6 separate regions of the Homo sapiens genome follow, and all the other regions are reported to be linked to region 5. Evidence: microRNA targets listed by miRTarBase, many of them from high-throughput screens and not tested one by one. Region 5 holds a microRNA gene; each other region holds the end of a gene's coding sequence.

Region 1 (3,769 bases), not on the chromosome of region 5:
ACCAGGTGGTGCAGCAGCCTATGAATGGGGATTCTGGACAGGAGTTTGAAAAAGACAAGCAAGGGAAACATGATACTAACTTGATTTGTTATAAAGCTTTTCATATGACAAAGGGAATTCCTTTGTCAACCTTCGTTTGAGTCATACAGTTTTCTAGGCAAAGGCTACATTATGTCACATTTATTGTTTATATGTACAACCTTTACTTGGCACCAGATCGAGCGGAAGTGGGTATACAAAAGTAGAAGTGGGTTTCAGAGAAGGAGCATACTTATCTGACAACTTCTGATATCTTTCACATGCAGTTATAAGGCTAAGAAATACCACTATTGGCCGGGTGCAGTGGCTCACGCCTGTAATCCTAGCACTTTGGGAGGCCGAGGTGGGCAGATTGCTCAAGCTCAGGAGTTCGAGACCAGCCTGGGCAGTGTGACGAAAGCCCATCTTTACAAAAAATACAAAAATTAGCCAGGGGTGGTGGCATGTCCGTGGTCCCAACTACTTGCGGGATTGTGGCGGGAAGGATCACTTGAGCTCTGGAGGTCAAGGCTGCAGTGAGCTGTGTTTGCACCATTGCCCTCCAGCCTGAGTGACAGAGTGAAACCCTATCTTAAAAAAGAAAGCAAAAAGAAATAACCACTATTTAGCAGATCTCTTTTGGAGGAAGATAAAAGCTTGTAAAACCATTTATCTTTGGAGGAAGAGAAGTACAAGAATATTGATTAGGTAGATGCAAAATTATAATAACCTTTTTTCTCTTCAAAGATACCAAACCTGGCTAAAAAACTTGAAGAAATTAAAAAGGACTTGGATGCCAAGAAGAAACCCCCTAGTGCATGAGACTGCCTCCAGCACTGCCTTCAGGATATACTGATTCTACTGCTCTTGAGGGCCTCGTTTACTATCTGAACCAAAAGCTTTTGTTTTCGTCTCCAGCCTCAGCACTTCTCTTCTTTGCTAGACCCTGTGTTTTTTGCTTTAAAGCAAGCAAAATGGGGCCCCAATTTGAGAACTACCCGACATTTCCAACATACTCACCTCTTCCCATAATCCCTTTCCAACTGCATGGGAGGTTCTAAGACTGGAATTATGGTGCTAGATTAGTAAACATGACTTTTAATGAGTAGTGTCTTCTTTATCGTTTGCGATTTTTACTACCTTTTTTCAAAAGAAAAATTGATGAGTTTTGTATAGCTGGTCAGATACAAATAATAGTGACTTCACAGTTTAGTAATTATAATGGGTACTTGTTAAACATTTGGTACTAAATTATGTTGCTGCAAAGTAATTAAAATTAGTATCTAGAGCTAGTTTCTGGTGAATTATTCATTTATTTTGTACTGTTGTTAGGCAGCTCTGTAGTTGCTAATTTAACCAATAAGTCAATTTGCTATTCATGAAGAAACGATTCTGAGAATCCTGTCAGGAATTGGGGAATGAAAAAATACACAAAATAATGGTCTTTGTCCCAGTAGAGTTCATAGTCTATTTAGTGTGCATGTTTTTCCTTAATGATGTATTTGATCTGACTTTTTTCCTTCTCAAAAGAATCATACTTGGGATTACAGGTACATTTGATGTTATATGATGGATAAGTGAAAAGTTTTTAAAGGAGATTTTATACCTTTTCACATTAAAAAAGGTATTTATATTATTACTTTGTAGTGATTGTCTTAAGAAAAAATATAGCCCAAATGTATAGTAAAATCAGCAGCTCAAGAAGAATTTCTGCTTCTCTTTGTAGTTGATGCTTTGTTTTTTCCTGCAGTCAGAAATTCCTTGTATTTGTCAAATGTATAATCAGCTTGTATTGTTTTTAAATTAAAAAAAAATTTGAATAATTAACTTTTGCCATGGGACAAGATACAAAAGTAATTTCATATAAAGGGCCTCTCCCACCCCTGTTCTCTGGCTCCTGGCTCCTGTTTGACAAGTTACTGTTACCACTTCGCCTTATACTTTTGAGAAAGAGTCTGTGCCTAAACAAACACGTGTAACACAAATAGTAACTATACATGGAGGTCTAGCCCTCGCCTTTTTTTTTTCTTTTTTTCTTTTTTAATGGAGATCATTCTATACCAGCATGTAAGTAGCAAGGAACCTCATTCTTTTTTTGGCTGCCTAAAATTTTTTTGAATAGATATAACATAATTGATTTAATCTGCTACTGGTGAATGCTTAGGTTGTTCTTTTGCTATTACAGTGATAACTTCAATCCTAATGTTATTAAGCATATCGATTCAGGGTATAGCTATAAGATGAAGTCCTAAAAGTATAATTTAGACTAAATACAAATACCCATTTCGCTAGCTGTTTTGTTTCAGAGGACTTGTTGAGCAGCTTCACTAATAATGCCATTTTTGAAGACATGGCAGGTTCAGAATCAATAAACTGGAAGAATTGTTCAGAGCATCTTTTTTCAGACAGTGATGACATTGATTCTGTATATGATAAAGTGATTCTGCTTCTCTTTGACAACTTGCATCTCTCCTACATGGAAGTAAGTTTTATTCCTGTCAATGTTGTCTTTGTGTGTGACAGATTAGGATTAAATTATGGTTTGACTTTTCCTAGCAGCGTGATCATGGGCAAGTGGCTTTTTTTTTTTTTTTTTTTTGAGACAGAGTCTCACTCTGCTGCCCAGGCTGGAGTGCAGTGGCACAGTCTTGGCTCACTGCAACTCCTGCCTCCCGGTCCAAGTGATTCTCGTGCTGCAGCTTCTCAAGTAGCTGGCATCACCACCACACCTGGCTAATTTTTGTATTTTTAGTAACGACGAGGTTTCACCATGTTGGCAAAGCTGGTCTCAAATTCCTGGCCTCAAGTGATCTGCCCACTTCAGCCTCCCAAAGTGTTGGGATTACAGGCGTGAGCCACTGCGCCCAGCTTTTTTAAACTTTTAGATTCATTTAATAGGTAAATTGCATGTCACGGGTTTGTAGCTTATTCTTTCAGAAACTCTTGCATTATCTGTAGACGTGGACGTAAATATCCACCTCATAGGGTTTTCATAAAAAATAATTGAGATAATGTATGTAATGTTTCACAGTGCTTTGCAGACTATCTAATAAATAGTAGCTATTAGTACAAACTTGTTGCTTTTTGGCTAGTTCTGCAGTCACTTTTGGAATCAGTTTATGAACCACACAAAAAGTTTGTCATTATTCTGTAGTCGCTGTTTTTGATACTGATGAAAATTTACAGTATCCACCTGGATTGTACCATCTGGCTCACAAGATTTGATCTTGAATTGTTAGCACAATGAACTACAGCCTCAAAGGATGAAAGTTTACCTTGCGGGTATTAAAAATGCTAGAAGCTTAGAAAGCTGTTTCCAAAGAGGGATTCCTTGTTACCAACCATGATAGCATTGCTGTGGTGTGTGTGGTCTCCCAGAGTGGCTGCTTTGGGATTGGAGGTCACTTAGCTATTAGAAGGATAGGTCTCTTTATATTATACCTTGTAAACAAGGCTCATTTGGACTTAGGGCTTCCTTTAGAGGTGACACTTAACCTTGGCAAGGGGATCATTTCTACCAGTGGGATCCATCTAGCAGATCAGTTCTTAAATTCGGCTTCATCATGTAAACTGCTACACAGTGCAGGCTGACTTTGCATTCACCATTCAGATACCCTCTCCTAGTTTTATGTTCTTGGCAGCAGTGAAAAGGACCTCAGAGTTCTCAGGCAAGATGATCTTCACTGAGCTATATGTTGGAGGAGCCCAGAACCATCATAGTTTTAGGGTGTAGTTGAAAATCCTTACTGTG
Region 2 (3,769 bases), not on the chromosome of region 5:
CCCCACCCAGCGCCTCGGGACAGCCAGGTGGGCCCTGGAAAGACTAGCCCTCCTGCCACTAGCTGCGTCCCTGTCCCCAGTGTATTGTACAAGTAGGATTCTCAGAGTGGGTTGTGAGAAGAATGGGGGTAGCCAGTCTGACTCTGGGGGCAGGAGGGAGGCTGAGTGGCTCCTGCTCGCCAGCAGGGGCAACAGTGCTAGCTTATCCCAGCAGATGCTTGACTTCCTGTCATCTCTTGCAGGCTCCTACTGAAGTGGCGCATAACTGACGCTGTGTGTGTCAGGACGCGAGGAAAACGCTGCACTTACAGGGAGAGGTGGTCACTTTGTTTACGGAGTTTGGAAGAGACCCATACTGCTACTTGTGTTTTGGACTTAACTGAACTTGGACATGGTCTGAGTTAGAACCACTTGTTTTGGGGAAGTATTCATGGGTAACCTCTTTGAGGTCTCTTTATCTGTGTTTCCTTTTTAGTTGCGCATAGCCTAATTCTAAGGTTTTGGTATTTTGCAAAAAGGTTTCTATAGTGAAAGCTGAATCCTTACTTTGTGACTTTTTTTTTTTTTTTTAATGACAAGCTTTGACTTTTAAAAGTGGAACCAAATCTGTTGGCAGAGGTGGCAGCCAAGTACATCTCTGTAACCCAGCTGGCCCCTGGTGCTGTTGGCCTGGCACCCCACTGCCAAGGGTGGGGTCTCAGGAGTCAGGCAGGGCCAGCACAGGGTGGCGTGGGGGGCAGGGGTGGGTGGGTGGAGGGCACGGAAGGGGTTTTCCCATGGATCATGTTGTATAAGTGAACCAGACCACCCTGATGGCATCCACAGTGATGTCAAGGTTGGGGCTGGCCAGGGGTGGGTGGACTAGAAGCATTTGGGAGTAGTGGCCAGGGGCCCTGGACGCTAGCCACGGAGCTGCTGCACAGAGCCTGGTGTCCACAAGCTTCCAGGTTGGGGTTGGAGCCTGGGATGAGCCCCGGCAGCGCCTTGGCCCTTCTGTGGTCCCTGCCAGCCTCTGACCTGGGCCGGTCAGTCATTGCTGGACTCTGGCCACACACTGGCGTTCTCATCCACTTGGAAACAAGCCAGTCTTTTCTGCAAGGTCAGTTGACCAAGAGCATATTTCCCCTCTGTTGTACATCGTTGTTTTGTGTTTGTGTTGTAACAGTGGGTGGAGGGAGGGTGGGGTCTACATTTGTTGCATGAGTCGATGGGTCAGAACTTTAGTATACGCATGCGTCCTCTGAGTGACAGGGCATTTTGTCGAAAATAAGCACCTTGGTAACTAAACCCCTCTAATAGCTATAAAGGCTTTAGTTCTGTATTGATTAAGTTACTGTAAAAGCTTGGGTTTATTTTTGTAGGACTTAATGGCTAAGAATTAGAACATAGCAAGGGGGCTCCTCTGTTGGAGTAATGTAAATTGTAATTATAAATAAACATGCAAACCTTTAAAATTTTCTTTTCTGATGCTCTAAGAATCCTGTTGACTCTTCTGCCCAAGTCACCTCTGCATCATGTCCAGGTCTGGAGCACACACTTAGGCTGGTGGAATTTGGGGAGACTTGGGCCCCATCAGGTGATGGAACGAGGTGGCTGACCCAATTGGTCGGGTGAAGTGCGGCCAGCAGACCCGGGTTCTCCCTGTGGGCCACCCTTCTGGGATGAATGGCTCTGCTCTCAGAAACTGGATACAAAGTTCTTTTAAAAACCCAGCTCACAGATAACACCTGTATCATAAGCAGTGGCCCCTTTGCCACCTTCCTGCTGCCTCCAAGCTCCCCAGCTCAGGAGCGTTCAGGTTCTCAGGCACCGTAGAGCATGTTACACAGCCATGAGCAAGCTGCACCCTGGACCCACGCAGAAAAACAAAGACATGGCTGGTTCTAGGCTCAGAGCATCCCATTTTAGTCTAATGGGTTTCCAGGTGACCTTAAAAGTGGCCCTCAGAGAGGACGAGGAGACACACCAGCTGCATGAGTTCTCCTTTCATTACCTGCCTGTGGCCATCAGGCTCCACAGCAGAACTGCCAGTGGGGGGCCCTCCCATTTCTTGGGTGGGGGTAATGGGTATCCTTGACCAGCAGAAAAATAAATGTTACGTGTGCCAGATACTGGTGGCCACAGTCCTCACCCAGCTAGAGAACTTGGTGAAACAGGTATTGCCTCCCAGAGCATCGCAAGGTAGTCAGGTTATCGTGTGCCAGCTGACCTTGCTGTTAAAATGTTCATTGTTTTGACAACTGTACATTTTACGCTGAGCTCAAAATGTATCTGGGCCCCTTTACTCCTTTTTAGAAGATACATGCCCAAAACCAAGGACCAGAGGACCCAAAAGCCTTAAACTGTGGGACTAGAAGTCAAAACACAGGAAAGGGCAGAGAATAGCCAGAACCAGTCTTCAACATAGGGGGCAGACGTCAAGATGTGGTCTATGAAAGTCAGACATGCAAAGCTGCTTTGAACAAAGCTGCTGCTCTACAGAATGAACCCAGGGCTACTTGTGTTTGTGTCCTTGACATTATACATTCATTAGGGGACTAGAATGAAGGTCTAAAAGCAAACGGAAGTCATTCTGTGTCTACAACAGAGAAACAGGTCTGCTGAAGGCCAGGTTTCTCTGCAGGACCCAGGGCAGCAGCTCTGACTTCCCAAGGGAGGAACCTGTGTCTCACACTGGCTTACTGTCTTAGCCACAAGGAACAGAAAGGAAAGCTCAATTACGGTGGCTCAGGGTTGAAAAAGAAGGGTGAGAGATGAGAGGACTGCTGTGATTGCACCTAAAGATACACATTCTCTTAAAAAAAAAAACAGGTTAAAAATACGGAAGTTTATTGTAGGACACTCAGTGTGAATAAATGGAATGGAAAGGCCTACACATCGAGACTCATCCATGATTGATATGAATTTAAAAATTACAAGCAAAGACATTTTATTCATCATGATGCTTTCTTTTGTTTCTTCTTTTCGTTTTCTTCTTTTTCTTTTTCAATTTCAGCAACATACTTCTCAATTTCTTCAGGATTTAAAATCTATAGAAAAAAACTTCATGGTTACCTAAGCCACACAAGGTGCCAAGGAACCAGCGCCCTCTTCTGGGGAGGGCGGCCAGGCTTTGGCACTGCTGCTCATACAGCCTCTTTGGAGAGGAACCTCAAGAAAAACAAGAGGATGCTGGCCTGACCTAGACAAGTATTAAGCAGCAGTAGCAGCAGCAGCAGATCTGACTGGCAGCCGCTCAGCATGCCCAGAGAACACGCGTGGACCATCTAATCAGAGGAAGATGGGAATCTTCTCTTTGACGTATGGGGAGCCTCAGAAAGACATTTTCCTAATGTTAAAACCACAGAATGGCCCTATGATGTTTCCTTCGGAACTGGTACTGCTCAGCCCTGATCATGGGAGAAAACTGACAGGTAAAGAAAGCAGACAAACTTGGTGATTACCTTGAGGGATTGATCTCGCCTCATGACAGCAAGTTCAATGTTTTTGCCACCTGACTGAACCACCTTGAAGGGACAGAAGACAGGAGCATTAACCACCTTTCCCTATTCAAGACAAAAGCAGCTCTCAGGAGTACCTTAAATAGGTGTGTACCCAAACCCAGCACCGTCCCAGGAACAGAGGTCCCAGCCCCCAAAACCTGTGTCTTTGTCCTAAACTCATGGCCATTTGTGAAGTCTGTTTGGGATGCCTGCACACCCCTCCGCCTCCCAGCACTGGGACTCCTCTCTCCTGCACAGTAGCGCTGCTCCAGGCCCTCCTCTTGACA
Region 3 (3,623 bases), not on the chromosome of region 5:
AGGAGTGAGGCAAGCCGTCGATGTCCAGCAGGATCTAGACAGCAATGAGAGGGGCCTCCACCCAACAGGCTGGAGCCAGCAGAGACAGGGCAGATGAGGTGGGGAGGGGACGGCAGGGCCCGCAGGGAGCAGAGCAAGGGTAGCCGTCCTGCCTGGCAGGGGTGCACTGACCTCCGGTTCCGGCTTGGTGGCTTAGCCCCTGTATAGGGGACTTGAAAAAAGCAGCTGGGTCCTAACCAGACCCCAGAGTAACCCTCTTCTTCCTCCACTCCAGCCCTCACCAGCCCTTTGCAGCTCCTTGCGACCCAAGCGAGTTCATCCGCGCCGGTGGTGGTCACCCGGGTGTGCGAGGTGGGGCCCAAGGAGCCAGCAGCAGCCGTCGCGGCCACGGCCACCACCACCCCAGCCACTGCCACCACCGCCTCTGCCTCCGCCTCTTCCACTGGAGAGCCCGAGGTCAAAAGGTCCCGGGTGGAGGAGCCCAGTGGTGCTGTAACCACACCGGCTGGAGTGATCGCAGCTGCCGGCCCCCAGGGGCCAGGCACCGGGGAGTGAGGTCACCTGCAACGCGGGGGAGTGGGACTCACCCAGCGGCGACCCCGAAGCTGGACCCGGCAGCTCAGGCGGCCGCACCCACAGACGGAGGAGAACAGCCCGCGGCGGCCTGTGGGCATCGGCGGCACCTGGACACACCCAGCCCTTTCCATTTGATCGCCTGCCTTCCCGTGGTTTAAGACAAAAACACATAAACAAGTTCAGACAACTGATTGTATGATTCTGGGAATTCTTTGCTTTCCTTTCCTTCTCCCTCGGCACCACCTCCTCTCCCCAGGCCTCCCTGTCGGGCATGGGGAGGAGGTTGGAGCTCAGCATCTTGAGGAATGTGTCAAGACAGCCCCTCCGCTCCGCGCTGCACGGCCAGCCGCCTTTGTCCGGGAGGACAGACAGAAACGCAGCAAGGCACACACCAAGGCTGCCGGGGAGGCCCGGGCACCGGACAGATGCCTGTTGGGAAGCCAGGAGCTGCCGAGCCACGGACCACCTAACAGCCTCTCCGCCCGGAACGTGACATAGAGAGTGTTGGCATTAACTCGGGGGGTGTCCGATTTCACTTCAGACCCCAAGTTTTTCTTTGTTTGTTTAAACATGGAATTCAGACTTCATTGTACACCTGAGACAGACACAAAAGGGATCATGTATTTTTGAGGATTTTACCTGTTGACGTCTGATGACCGGCCGTAGGTCCAGGGTTCCCGCTGGGTTTAATCCCCTCGAAGAGTAAACCTGCCGCTCTGTCTGATAACTTCAAGTAAGAGCAGCGGCTTCCTGGGTTGGCGTTCGCGGTGGAAGGTTCCTAGGATGAAAGGTGAGCCTGGATCCGCCGGCCGCAGACATCGCGCTGCTGGGGACGATTGGGGCCGCTGCTCTGCAGACCAGACCTTCCCGAATTATCCGTGGCTCCGATGTCCCGGTGCTGACGGCCACATGGGGACCTAACAGTGCCAAACGCCATCTGCTCCAGCTGCTTTTTCACCCAGTTGCAGAGTCCTCACCACTCCCACATTGATCTGCTGTTTTCAATTGGAACCATTTCTCCTGCCTGAAACTCCAGGGCCCCTCCCTGGGCTGTCCGTGAGCAGGAGACCCCACCCCAGCAGCAGTGGTGAGCAGGCCTGTGCCTCCACGCCCAGCCCCCGCCAACGCGACTGGTTTTGTTTGCCACACGGTGAGAACCGGAGGACGGGATGCTCCAGCCAGTTGGGTGGTTCTGGGGTCCCTGAGGAAGCCCCCTCCTGCACTTCCATTAAGACAGCCAGTGGTTCCTGGATCTTTGTCACCAAGCAGCGTTGAGCCAGAGCTGTCTAATGCTGAGCCCAGCTCAGGAAGGAGAGAGGAGTCCTTCAGTGTGTCTTGGAGATGCGAAGTGCGTCCTCGTAAAGGTCAGCTGTCAGTTTTGCTGGCCGCTCCGGCGCTGGCTCTCCTGTCCGGGACCACAACGAGAAACAGCGACAGATTCGACGCAGAGCTCCGGAAGTGCCTGAGGAGCAGTGGTTCTTGGAAATCGCCCGTCCTCCGCATCACAGCCTCTCACCAGCAAAGCAGCCTCTGCCCAGGCCCTGGCGGGAGAGCTGCAGAGGGACCCAGGTGCCTGGAGGGCATTTGAGGGAGGTGGCTGGACAGGTGTCTCCCTGAAGAAGAAGGGAGAACACTTTTCAAAGTGATTCCGAGGCAGTGCGGGAGGACACACGTGCTGTGCAGTGGAGTGGGGTCGCCCGTGGCCCCCATCAGAGTCCCCGTCCCCCAGGACAAGTGCAGAACCTCTGTGGGCCCCCTCCTTCCACCTAGATAGAGAAAACCCCTTGTTCGGTTTCCTTCCCGTGTCCCGTTGTTTTTCTAAGCCCCCCGAATTGAGTCGTTTCTATGGCACTAACCTTTCCATGGGAAATAAGCTCTTTGTGGAAGTCCGTACCTGTTGCCCTGGGTGAGGTTTCAGAGAAACGGGGGCAGGATGAACACAGCCGGCTGTCCTGGGTGCAGTTACGTCCGTGGAGGGTGAGAGATTGCGCCCCGTTCCACACTTGTGTCGCCTGCTGTTGTCTGTGGGCCTTTTCTTTCCGTGGTGCCTGGTGTGTGCGTGCATGGCGTGAGAGAACGGGGGGTGGGGGTTGGAGGTGGCTCCCCGACACCGGTGCCTGTGTGGCCTGAGCCGGCGCCCTCCCGGGAGCGCCCGTCACGGGGGGCCTCTGTGATTACCTGCTGCTGCTCTCTCCCGCGTGGTGACTATATGTCCTCAGGGCTGCCTGTGGCCACCCTGATGGGAGACCTCTGTTTGCTTCTGGGCCACTGCAGGTTGGCCTCCTCAATACAAGCTGATGTCTGCAGGGAGCGCCGCGTGCTGGGATTGCACCACGTGTTGGTCACAAATCGAGGTCGCCTTTTGGCCTGGTCTGCTCAGGCTGGCCCTGACCCACGTGGTTTCCTGGCTTCTGAGACGCAGCGCATTCTTCCTGTTAGCGGTAGCGTTCTCTGATTTCACTGCTTCATTGCCAAGGGCGTGGAAAGGGGGTGGTGGATGGAGCCGGGAGGTGGCGAGCACAGGACCCCGGGGCTGCATTCTGCCGTGTGGGGTTCTGCACTGTCTAGCTTCTGCGGGGACTGCAAAGAGGGATGAAGGGACGTGGTCCTAGGGGTCGGCTCAGACTCGGAGCAGGGCAGGGAGAGGAGGGCAAGGAGAGGAGGCCTGGGTCCTGGATCCACTGCTCTGGGCTCATAACCATGAGATTTTGAAAGAGTTTTTGGTCATCTGAGCAGGTACCATGCCTGGCTCATGCCGGAACTTGTCTTGGAACCGGTAGCCAGAGGCCCAGGAAGGGACAGGGCCCAAAAGGGTTGCATGTCCCGGCCACAAAGCCCTCCCTGTGTGCCCTGAGCCAGCCCAGCAAGCGCCTCCCAGCCAGGCGCTTTCGCAGAAGCAAGAGCACAGGCCAGGGGGACCGGGAGAGCCTCAGCCCCCAGCCTGGGCGGCCTGTGACCCTGAGCCGTGTGGAGCCAGGACCCAAGAACCTTCTCTAGGTTCTCAAGGGTGAGCTGACCCGGGCAATGTGCAGGAATGTGGGGAGCAA
Region 4 (3,769 bases), not on the chromosome of region 5:
AATTTCATCTAGGTGAAAGAACTTGGGCTTTGTAGGCAAATAGCCTAAGATTCATTCTCAACCCGGCTGCTTACTACATTGTAACTTGGGCAAAGAACCAAACATCTGAACCTTGCTTTTCTCATTTAAGAATCAAGGATAAAATACCGACCTTTCAGGGTTAATAGCTGCCATAATACATGAAAGCAACCTGTATGCTCTCTGGCAGTTAGTAGGTATTCAGATATTAGTATCACTCCCTAAACCTATATTCATAGGTAGCAGGTAAGCAATTTAAAGAGTTTTGATTCAGTAGTATTTACAAAATGGGAAGATGATGCTAGTATCTATATAGAACATAACAATGTATGTGTTCTGTGCTGTTTATAATACTGTTTTACTTTTCACCAGGAGGTGGCACTTCTCTATTAGCTCAGCTCTCTAGGTGTTTGATAAGGTTACTATGGGAAGTATCATTACTAACTTTTCTTTTACTTGTGTTGTAGAAGAAGCGCTGCAAGTACAAAATTGAAAAAATTGAGACCATAAAGCCTGAAGAACCATTGCACCCCATAGCCAATGGCGACATAAAAGGAAGAAAGCCCTTTACGAACCAGAGAGATTTTTCTAATATGGGAGAAGTTTATCACTCTTCTTATAAAGGTCCTCCATCTGAAGGAAGCTCAGAAACTTCATCACAGTCAGAAGAGTCCTATTTTTGTGGCATTTCAGCTTGCACAAGTCTGTGCAATGGACAGTCTCAAAAGACAAAAACTGAGAAGAGGGCTTTAAAACGAAGACGATCTAAAGTCCAAGACCAAGGAAAATTGATAAAAACTCTAATACAGACTAAGTCGGGATCATTGCCGAGCCTGCATGACATAATCAAAGGAAACAAAGAGATCACCGTGGGAACATTTGGTGTTACAGCAGTCTCGGGACATATCTAAAATTAATTGAACTTTTCATACAGAAGACTTTTTTGTTGTTGTTCTTTGAAGAACAGTCTGTAGTATTTGAAGGGTTTGGGGGAGGGAGAAAATATTAATGGGAAAGGCATTCAGAAATTATGGTTTCTACCTTTTTAAAAAGTAGATGGGATTGTGTCAATCTTGGTTAATGAGCTACAGTTTTACAAAGCTGATCACTTCCTATAAGGACAATGGTAGACATTTTATAAAGATGTTTTTTCACAAGATTAATTACTGGGACAAAAGTAATTTGGAAGCCCAGTTCCTTAGGTGGGATAGGAATGAAAGCCTAAACCTCTTCCTTTAGCTTTGTTCCTATTTCTTGCACCTTCCCATATTTATGTGCCTTTTGTCTATTTATAATGCCACTGGAAGAGGAGGGATAACTTTTTCTGTTATTTGATTTCTTTTATAACTTTGTTAGGTTTTTGAAGCTGCAAACACTACAATGCTTTGAGGGGGTCTGTGCCTGAAGCTCAGGAGTGTGGATCAGACAGTCTAAAGATCCTAAAAACTTGCCAACTGGATCTTTGTTTAGCAAACTCACTGGAAATGAACACTTAATGGAATTTTTAAGTCTGTTCTGTTAGGTAGATGGTGATGCTCTTGTTATTTTCACTTATTCAGACTGGATTACTTCTTACTTAGTTACTAACTCAATGAGGAAAAATCCCTACAGGATCTTTTTTTGCAAACAACTGATATATGCAGACAAATTTTTGACAAATTCACCTTTTAAACACACTTAACCATTTGTGAAGGTTTTCTTTAGCTTACATTTTAAACATACACAATAAACACTAATCCTCCAAACTTTCACTGTTTTTATTAGTATGAATATAAAATTTGAAGGTTTGGCCAATTAGTACAAGTCTCATGATATAATCACTGCCTGCATACATATGCACAGATCCAGTTAGTGAGTTTGTCAAGCTTAATCTAATTGGTTAAGTCTAAAGAGATTATTATTCCTTGATGTTTGCTTTGTATTGGCTACAAATGTGCAGAGGTAATACATATGTGATGTCGATGTCTCTGTCTTTTTTTTTGTCTTTAAAAAATAATTGGCAGCAACTGTATTTGAATAAAATGATTTCTTAGTATGATTGTACAGTAATGAATGAAAGTGGAACATGTTTCTTTTTGAAAGGGAGAGAATTGACCATTTATTGTTGTGATGTTTAAGTTATAACTTATTGAGCACTTTTAGTAGTGATAACTGTTTTTAAACTTGCCTAATACCTTTCTTGGGTATTGTTTGTAATGTGACTTATTTAACGCCTTTTTTGTTTGTTTAAGTTGCTGCTTTAGGTTAACAGCGTGTTTTAGAAGATTTAAATTTCTTTCCTGTCTGCACAATTAGCTATTCAGAGCAAGAGGGCCTGATTTTATAGAAGCCCCTTGAAAAGAGGTCCAGATGAGAGCAGAGATACAGTGAGAAATTATGTGATCTGTGTGTTGTGGGAAGAGAATTTTCAATATGTAACTACGGAGCTGTAGTGCCATTAGAAACTGTGAATTTCCAAATAAATCTGAACACTTGTCTTTATTAATTACTGGCTCTTCTGTCTTTTAAAAGAGAACTCAGAAATTATTAATCTTTGAACAGAGATTTAAGTTTTTGCCACTTTTAAAGTTAAATATAGCAGCATTCCATTCAATATTGATCACATTTCAGCCAACTACAAAATGATGGTACTTTTACATAAACATTTTGCTCCCTATGCTATCAGAATTTCAGTTTTTCATATCTAAATACAGCATAACATTTTGTAACATGAGGTTTATTTTTTCCTCTCTCACATAACTACATGAGAAAAAAAACTTAAGTGAAAATAATAGATTTATGCCTATTAAGAAGCAAAAACTATATAGATATTTATCCAATGGGATTTTTAGTGTTCCCTGATGATCAACCTCATTTTATTTCTTCTAATGTTAAGTAAAGCATTAAAACAGTATGAAATAAAAGGAAACTAGGGAATTGGTAAGAACAAGGATGCAAAGTAAAACAATTCTTTTAATTGAATTTTTAAAAACATTAAAGTTGTGGCTCACGCCTATAATCCTAACACTTTGGGAGGCCGAGGCAGGGGATCATTTGAGGAGTTCGAGACCAGCCTGACCAACATGGTGAAAACCCGTCTCTAATAAAAATTAAAAAAAAGTAGCCGGGCATGGTAGCACATGCCTGTAGTCCCAGCTACTCAGGAGGCTGAGGCAGGAGAATTGCTTGAACCTGGGAGGCAGACAGGTTGCAGTGAGCTGAGATTGCACCACTGCACTCCAGCCTGGGTGGCAGAGTGAGACTGTCTCAAAAAAAAAAAGTTATGCATACATATAATTTGATAAATTAGTTTTATAAGGCTTATAAAGTAAGAACAGAAAACAGTTCTCTATTCTGTACCATTTCACTCACACACAACGCACACACACACACACACACACACTACCAGTACCACCCATCTTTCTCTACCAAAGATTTCTTGCTTCCCAGTGGCAAACATTTTTTATTCCGTCTGCAGTTATTGTGCTTCCCTTACCTTGCTGCTTATTTTTCCATTTTTAGATGTGTCCTCAGTTTGAATATACAAACTTGTACGCATGAACATGAGATAGATATAAACTTATATTGGTTAATGTAATTGGATAAGTCTATTCAAAATCACACAACAGGACAACTTAGAAGTACTGCTTTTCTTCAACTGATTGATTTAAAAAATTTCAAATCTGTAGATAAGTTGAACACCATGTGCCTTTGCCCAGATTCACCAGTTGCTAATCTTTTTAGTTTTCTTCATGTGTATGTGTTTTATATG
Region 5 (3,769 bases):
GCAGCACACCAGCATGGCACATGCATACATATGTAACTAACCTACACATTGTGTACATGTACCCTAAAACTTAAAGTATAATAATAATTAAAAAAAATGAGTTATCCTGTAAACTGCTGATTTCTTCTGGGCATTGTCTCTGTAAACTTTTTATAAAGCATAAATGATTTCACCATCCTTCCACCCAAGCTTCACTATAAATTTGATGTTTGTTCTTGCTTCAATTTTAGCAGAATTATTGTTGTTCTGGTAGGGGCTCTTTTCAAACTGGTGTCTTATCCTTCTTAGTGCCTCAAACTAGATCCTGTTCAGACATGTTAGAATAAGTTAGCACGAGTTTATTTTGGTGCTGAAAATTTGAAATCCATGCATAGTTTTTTGTAATAATATGTATTTCCCATTAACTTATTGAAGACCTGTTGTCTATTAAGTATAATAATGTAGAAAAAATAATATAGGAAAAAACACAAAGAAATCCCATGTACCTTTTACCTAATTTCCTCCACTGGTAACCTCTGGCAAAACTATAGTACAGTATCACTGCCAGGATATTTTCATTGATACGGTCTGATAAAGCAGAACAGTCCTGTCACCATGCAGATCTCTTCTGTCATTCTTTTATAGCCATACCCACCATCTACATATCTAAACCCCATCCCTGATCCCTGGCAACCATGAATCTATTCTTCATATCTATAATTTTGCTATTTTAGGAATCTTGTGTAAATATAGTTATACCTTATATTACCTTTGAGGCTGACTTTTTAAAAATCACCTAGCATAATTCCCTGGAGAGTTATCCAACTTTTTATAATACACAACATTTTTTTCTGTTTTCGAGACCACGTTTTGCTCTGTTGCCCAGGCTGGAGTGCAGTGGTGCATTCACGGCTCACTGCAGCCTTGGCCTGCTTGACTTAAGTGATCCTTCCACATCAGCCTCTCAAGTAGCTGGGACCACAGGTGTGCACCACTATGCCTAGCTAATAATTTTTTTTTTTTTTTTTTTTTTTTTTTTGTAGAGACGGAGTCTCATTATGTTGTTCACACTGGTCTGAAACTTCTGGCCTCAAGTGATGCTCCTGCCTCGGCCTCCTAAAGTGCTGAGATTACAGGAATGAGCCAACACGGTGGCTGATACACACCATCTTTAATGGGTGCATATTATTCCATTGTGTGGAAATACCATGTTGAGTTAAAAATCAGTATTTTAAAAAGTAGAGAGCCCTTAAAATACTTTAACTTTACATTAGTATTGTTCTTTACTGTTTAAAAGTTCTTTGCTTTAAATTTTCTCATCTAATCTTTAAAATAGTATTGGGGGATAGCGAATACATTATCCATACTATAAATAGAGCAGTAGGGGACCAAGAAATATTATATAACTTGGCTAAGATTACTTCGTGGCAGAGTCAGGATTCCTATTCTTTCTTCTCTTGCCAGTGATCATAACATAATCAGGTTTACTGTGTGCCTAGGCATGGTGGGAAACACTTAACATTGATTATTTTATTTAATCCTTCTAACAAAACTGTGTGGGAAGTACTAATAGTAGTACTGGTACTATTAATAGTAGTTTGGTCAAGAGAACTGGGGCTCAGAAAGTTTACATGACTGGATGTGGCTTGCATGTGGTACATGCAGGATTTGATCCAAAGTTTCTCTCACTCCAGAGCCCATGCTGCTAATCATGACCTTGTGTTGCTGAAGTGAATATTTTCTACTATCCCATTGTTGTTTAAATTGTTAAAAGTATGAAAGCATCTTATTTAAAATTCCCTATGTCTCAGTATACATGGATGAGCTCTGTTGTGATCTTTATGCCCGTGTGTTCTTTGGGTTTGTTGACTAGCATCATATACCTATCTCTCTTGCTTTCTCTATGGGCCCTTTGCTGTGCCAGCCACACATGAGTTTACCAGCTTCCCAGCTAACCAGGGGCCAGCATGTTCTTCCTGGAGGCATGCCCAGCCACTATAGGAAAGGGGTATGACGTGTGCAGCAGGCTGCATGTCCTGTGCTTGGCAAAGGCTGGCAACTCCCACTGGGGTGGAGAAGGGACAGGATTCTCCACATGGTTCCCATGGTACACTTGACAAGAGGGAATGATAGTACCACAGTGTTATGTCTGGGTCCTGGAATGCTTCATTTATATGTACCTCAGTTGACATGTGACTTGCTCAGTCCTGCTGCTATAGCCTGCTGCTGGAAGGGCTGCCTCAGTGGAAAGCATGCATCCAGGGTGTGGAGCCAAAATTAGAAGGGCCAAAATTCTACCTGGCCCACTACCACAGCAACCTTGGGCATCGTTTTCTTTTGATCTCTAGTATCTCCAACTCCTAGAATTCCAGCCTGGCAGTCTTCTGCCTCTGAAGGCCTCTTATCCTTCCTGTTCTTGGCTCCTCTTCTCTGTGAATGCTTACATAGCAGCGTCAGAGTTGTTTGTTGTATTGTGTCTGTACATGCAGTGCTGTTCTGTATCTCTTTGAATCTGAGCCATTTTCTTTTGACTCATTTGGCTGATGTGAATGGTACTTTCCTGAAGAGCTATCTACCAGTGCCGTTGACATCCAAGCCACAGAATTCTTTTCCTCACTTCGGTTTGAATAAAACCAACATATCCTTAGGGATGGTTTTGCACTTACTATCCTGCTACTAACTTGGAAAAACGTTACATGTCTCATTCATCTTAGGGAACCGACCCAGTCCCAAAATATGAACTAGCCTGCCTCACCAGTTATTAACAAATAAGATTTCCTTTTGAAAACCTCAGGGATAGGATAAAGGACTGTGTTGCAGTGTAACCAGACCTCCCCCTCACCCCCCAGTTCCCCCAACACATCTCACATCTCACTGGTGGCTTCTCTTTTCTTTTTCCCTTGCCTTTTGTGTCAGTTTTTTTTTCTTTCAAATATCATTATGGGTAATTTGGAACATATACATAATATGGTGGTTACTTATATCTATTAGCTATTTACATATTTTATTCTGTAGATTGTCAGCTCATGGTCTCTGCTGAATTTTGATGTACAGGTGTTTCCCTTGTTGATTTGTATGAGTTTTACATATATAAAGAGTGTTAATCTTTTATCACTTTTGCAGTAAATGTTTTCCCCAGATTGTCTTCTAACTTTTTAATGATGCTTTTGATAATAGATTTGGTTTACATTTTTATTGGTCAAATTGATTGATTTCTAAACCCCCTTCAGATCATGGTAATTTCTTCCATTGCTTTTACACTTGAAAAGACATTTCCCATTCTAAGGTTAGAATGGGATTTAAAACAATCCAGTTTTAAAATAGTTTTAAAAATATTTAACTTGTCAGTCCATCAAAAATTCATTTTGTGACTAGTATGAAGTAGAGTATAGCTTATATTTTCCCCTAGAGAGTCATTTATTTGAGCACCATTCATCAAATAACTATTTTCCTATGATTATTGCTATTATACTTTTATCATACATAAATTCTTCTATATGCTAGGATTTTTTCAGCTTGTATTATTCATTGATCTCTCTCTTGGGTTTTCCATCAGTTTCATACCCTTATATATGCAACAGCTGGTAAACCAGATTTCTTTTGCTTTCTCTGCAGCCTAGCGCATTACCCACACTTTTTTCTTAGCTAGTCTCAACCATTTTTTCGTCCAAATGAACTTAGAATGTTTCTGTCAGGTTCTCCTCAAAATCCTACCAGGATTTTGATTGGAACTACTTTAAACCTAAAATTTCATTGACATCATCACAACACAGAGTCTGTCATCCAGGAA
Region 6 (3,769 bases), not on the chromosome of region 5:
TTGTTACTCTAATATACATTAAAATACACACATAACTAGTAAAATTTATACACACACACACACACACACATATACATGTATATGTATATATATATTTAGAGACAGGGTCTTGCTCTGTTACCCAGGCTGGAGTGCAGTAGTGCAGTGGCACAATCTTGGCTCACTGCAACCTTGACCTCTTGGGCTCAAGTGATCCTCCCATCTCAGCCTCCCAAGTAGCTGGGACAACAAGCACATGCTGCCACAGCCTGGCTAATTTTTTTGTATTTTTTGTAGAAACAGGGTCTCACTATGTTGCCCAGGGTGGTCTTGAACCCCTGGGCTCAAGCAGTCCACCCACTTAGGCCTCCCAAAGTGTTGGGATTACAGGCGAGAGCCACCGCAGCAGGCCTTAAATGTTTTTTAAACTTCTTTGAACTTAATTCCATCTGAAATCATCCAGCAGCCTCCAGAGATAACAAATAACAAAGTTAAGGAAAAAGCATGGTCATATAGTTATTGTATGGAATCCGTGTGAATTGGTGGGTCCTTAGACACCTTCAGCATAGAAGCATTATTCCCATTTTCCTGTTGTGGAAGCTGAGGCACAGAGAGTTGAGAGTTATCATAAGATCACACTAAGAGAGTGACAGGACTGGGGTTCCAACCCATAGCGGTGAGTACTAAAGCCACCCTCCTTCCCCTCCGCCAGGCCAGCAGATGAGTCGTTGGCAGGATCACTGCATCTGTCATCCCCTCGCCCTCACTCCAGCCTTTTTTTCCCTCCACAGTCCTCACTGGGCTTTGTGGCCCTCGTGCTGAGCACACTGCACACGCTCACCTACGGCTGGACCCGCGCCTTCGAGGAGAGCCGCTACAAGTTCTACCTGCCTCCCACCTTCACGCTCACGCTGCTGGTGCCCTGCGTCGTCATCCTGGCCAAAGCCCTGTTTCTCCTGCCCTGCATCAGCCGCAGACTCGCCAGGATCCGGAGAGGCTGGGAGAGGGAGAGCACCATCAAGTTCACGCTGCCCACAGACCACGCCCTGGCCGAGAAGACGAGCCACGTATGAGGTGCCTGCCCTGGGCTCTGGACCCCGGGCACACGAGGGACGGTGCCCTGAGCCCGTTAGGTTTTCTTTTCTTGGTGGTGCAAAGTGGTATAACTGTGTGCAAATAGGAGGTTTGAGGTCCAAATTCCTGGGACTCAAATGTATGCAGTACTATTCAGAATGATATACACACATATGTGTATATGTATTTACATATATTCCACATATATAACAGGATTTGCAATTATACATAGCTAGCTAAAAAGTTGGGTCTCTGAGATTTCAACTTGTAGATTTAAAAACAAGTGCCGTACGTTAAGAGAAGAGCAGATCATGCTATTGTGACATTTGCAGAGATATACACACACTTTTTGTACAGAAGAGGCTTGTGCTGTGGTGGGTTCGATTTATCCCTGCCCACCCCACCCCCACAACTTCCCTTTTGCTACTTCCCCAAGGCTCTTGCAGAGCTAGGGCTCTGAAGGGGAGGGAAGGCAACGGCTCTGCCCAGAGCCATCCCTGGAGCATGTGAGCAGCGGCTGGTCTCTTCCCTCCACCTGGGGCAGCAGCAGGAGGCCTGGGGAGGAGGAAAATCAGGCAGTCGGCCTGGAGTCTGTGCCTGGTCCTTTGCCCGGTGGTGGGAGGATGGAGGGATTGGGCTGAAGCTGCTCCACCTCATCCTTGCTGAGTGGGGGAGACATTTTCCCTGAAAGTCAGAAGTCACCATAGAGCCTGCAAATGGATCCTCCTGTGAGAGTGACGTCACCTCCTTTCCAGAGCCATTAGTGAGCCTGGCTTGGGAACAAGTGTAATTTCCTTCCCTCCTTTAACCTGGCGATGAGCGTCCTTTAAACCACTGTGCCTTCTCACCCTTTCCATCTTCAGTTTGAATGACTCCCAGGAAGGCCTAGAGCAGACCCTTTAGAAATCAGCCCAAGGGGGAGAGCAAGAGAAAACACTCTAGGGAGTAAAGCTCCCCGGGCGTCAGAGTTGAGCCCTGCCTGGGCTGAAGGACTGTCTTCACGAAGTCAGTCCTGAGGAAAAATATTGGGGACTCCAAATGTCCTCTGGCAGAGGACCCAGAAAACCACACTGGCTCCAACTTCCTCCTCATGGGGCATTACACTTCAAAACAGTGGGGAGCAACTTTTCCACCAAAGCTACAAACCTAAAATGCTGCTGCCCCAAAGCACAAGAGGGAAGAGCACCGCCGGGGCCACAGGACGTCTGTCCTCCAGTCACAGGCCATCCTTGCTGCTCCCTACTGACTCTAGCTTACTTCCCCTGTGAAGAAACAGGTGTTCTCGGCTGAGCCCCCAACCCTCTGCAGAACCAGGTTGATCTGCCACAGAAAAAGCATCTTTGAAGACAAAGAGGGTGAGGTCTTCATGAGTCTCCTGGGCCCAAAGCCATCTTCTGATGGAAGGAAGAGAGTAGGGCCAGTGAAGGCTGCCCAGAGAGAATGTCACAGATGAGGCTGCCCCTGCCCCCCCCCCGCCAGGGAGGTTTCATGAGCTCATGTCTATGCAGCACATAAGGGTTCTTCAGTGAAAAGCAGGAGAAGAGCCCACTGCAAGGATAGCTCATTAGGCACATGACCGATGCAGGGAAGGCCATGCCGGGGAAGCTCTTCCTGCAGGTATTTTCCATCTGCTGTGCCAAGGCTGAGCGGCAGAAACTTGTCTCATAAATTGGCACTGATGGAGCATCAGCTGTGGCCCACAGAGAGCCTTGCTGAGAAGGGGGCAGGTAAAGCAGAGATTTTAGCATTGCCTTGGCATAACAAGGGCCCATCGATTCCCTACTAATGAGAGGCAGGGAGAGCATGGGCAATGGAGACCCACCAATGATCCCCAACCCCGGTGGGTACTGGCTGCCTGCCCTGGGCCAGGGAATGGCTCCTTATACCAAAGATGCTGGCACATAGCAGAACCCAGTGCACGTCCTCCCCTTCCCACCCACCTCTGGCTGAAGGTGCTCAAGAGGGAAGCAATTATAAGGTGGGTGGCAGGAGGGAACAGGTGCCACCTGCTGGACAATCACACGAAAGGCAGGCGGGCTGTGTACTGGGCCCTGACTGTGCGTCCACTGCTGTCTTCCCTACCTCACCAGGCTACTGGCAGCAGCATCCCGAGAGCACATCATCTCCACAGCCTGGTAAATTCCATGTGCCTCTGGGTACAAAAGTGCCTCAACGACATGCTCTGGAAATCCCAAATGCCACAGTCTGAGGTTGATATCTAAAATCTATGCCTTCAAAAGAGTCTCTGTTTTTTTTTTTTAACCTGGTAGACAGTATAAAAGCAGTGCAAATAAACACCTAACCTTCTGCAAACTTCAGGCTTTTATTTCTGCCATGTAGATCACGTATCCATTCGTCCACTGACTCGAGAAGCCTTCAGCTTGGAGCCTGCTCTCAGGCAGGCAGTGTGCAAGGACTTGGGACTGCCAAGGTGAACACAGTGATCTGTGCTAGAGCTGGCCAATGAGGAAGGGCAGATGTGCAGACCTAAGGGACTAAGGGACATGCCAGGGAGGAAATGGGCAAGATCCAGGTGACAGAGTGTCGGGTGGGGGTGTGGGGATGTGAAAAGGTGGCTTCCTGGAGTGGTCTGAAGGCTGAGGCCTCGGTGCAGGTAAAAGCAGCAGAGCTTCTTGAATTATAATGTGCCTGGGAGTCACCTAGGAATGTGGTTCGAATGCGGGTTCTGATTTGTGGTCTGGGGTGAGGCATGAGA

The links. Region 5 holds the annotated microRNA hsa-miR-3978 (GUGGAAAGCAUGCAUCCAGGGUGU, at 2,223-2,246, shown strand). A microRNA usually pairs through its seed, bases 2 to 8, with sites in the 3' UTR of a target mRNA and lowers its output. Matches are read on the target gene's strand: a 7mer-m8 pairs with bases 2 to 8, a 7mer-A1 pairs with bases 2 to 7 and ends in A, and an 8mer does both.
Region 1: miRTarBase lists STMP1 as a target of hsa-miR-3978. Seed matches in the 3' UTR shown: 7mer-A1 at 1,023-1,029 and 8mer at 1,054-1,061.
Region 2: the mRNA of PSMA7 is a reported target of hsa-miR-3978. Seed matches in the 3' UTR shown: 7mer-m8 at 2,862-2,868.
Region 3: miRTarBase lists FOXK1 as a target of hsa-miR-3978. Seed matches in the 3' UTR shown: 7mer-m8 at 700-706 and 7mer-m8 at 2,433-2,439.
Region 4: miRTarBase lists SUCO as a target of hsa-miR-3978. Seed matches in the 3' UTR shown: 7mer-A1 at 2,470-2,476.
Region 6: the mRNA of STEAP3 is a reported target of hsa-miR-3978. Seed matches in the 3' UTR shown: 7mer-m8 at 1,801-1,807 and 7mer-m8 at 1,903-1,909.

What each region holds. Positions count from the first base shown.
Region 1 is chr7:135,673,326-135,677,094 of GRCh38, forward strand. STMP1 (short transmembrane mitochondrial protein 1) reads left to right here. Exons shown (of 3, transcript NM_001130929.2): 3 at 766-3,091. The coding sequence ends at 840. Among named protein-coding and RNA genes, the nearest start is that of STMP1, 13 kb to the left of the region's middle.
Region 2 is chr20:62,133,921-62,137,689 of GRCh38, forward strand. PSMA7 (proteasome 20S subunit alpha 7) reads right to left here. Exons shown (of 7, transcript NM_002792.4): 6 at 3,444-3,506; 7 at 2,813-3,029. The coding sequence ends at 2,937. LSM14B (LSM family member 14B) reads left to right here. Exons shown (of 9, transcript NM_144703.3): 9 at 243-1,454. Among named protein-coding and RNA genes, the nearest start is that of PSMA7, 7.6 kb to the right of the region's middle. RefSeq lists an enhancer at 1-422.
Region 3 is chr7:4,761,910-4,765,532 of GRCh38, forward strand. It overlaps FOXK1 (forkhead box K1), which reads left to right. Exons shown (of 9, transcript NM_001037165.2): 9 at 275-3,623. The coding sequence ends at 555. Among named protein-coding and RNA genes, the nearest start is that of AP5Z1, 12 kb to the right of the region's middle.
Region 4 is chr1:172,609,331-172,613,099 of GRCh38, forward strand. It overlaps SUCO (SUN domain containing ossification factor), which reads left to right. Exons shown (of 24, transcript NM_014283.5): 24 at 486-2,503. The coding sequence ends at 929. Among named protein-coding and RNA genes, the nearest start is that of FASLG, 48 kb to the right of the region's middle.
Region 5 is chrX:110,079,899-110,083,667 of GRCh38, forward strand. MIR3978 (microRNA 3978) reads left to right here and starts at 2,220; the gene lies at 2,220-2,320. The region is part of intron 3 of TMEM164 (transmembrane protein 164); the gene reads left to right.
Region 6 is chr2:119,262,287-119,266,055 of GRCh38, forward strand. It overlaps STEAP3 (STEAP3 metalloreductase), which reads left to right. Exons shown (of 6, transcript NM_182915.3): 6 at 771-3,366. The coding sequence ends at 1,052. LOC105373581 (a long non-coding RNA gene) reads right to left here. Exons shown (of 2, transcript XR_001739666.3): 2 at 3,339-3,769. Among named protein-coding and RNA genes, the nearest start is that of STEAP3-AS1, 15 kb to the left of the region's middle. RefSeq lists a silencer at 3,038-3,137.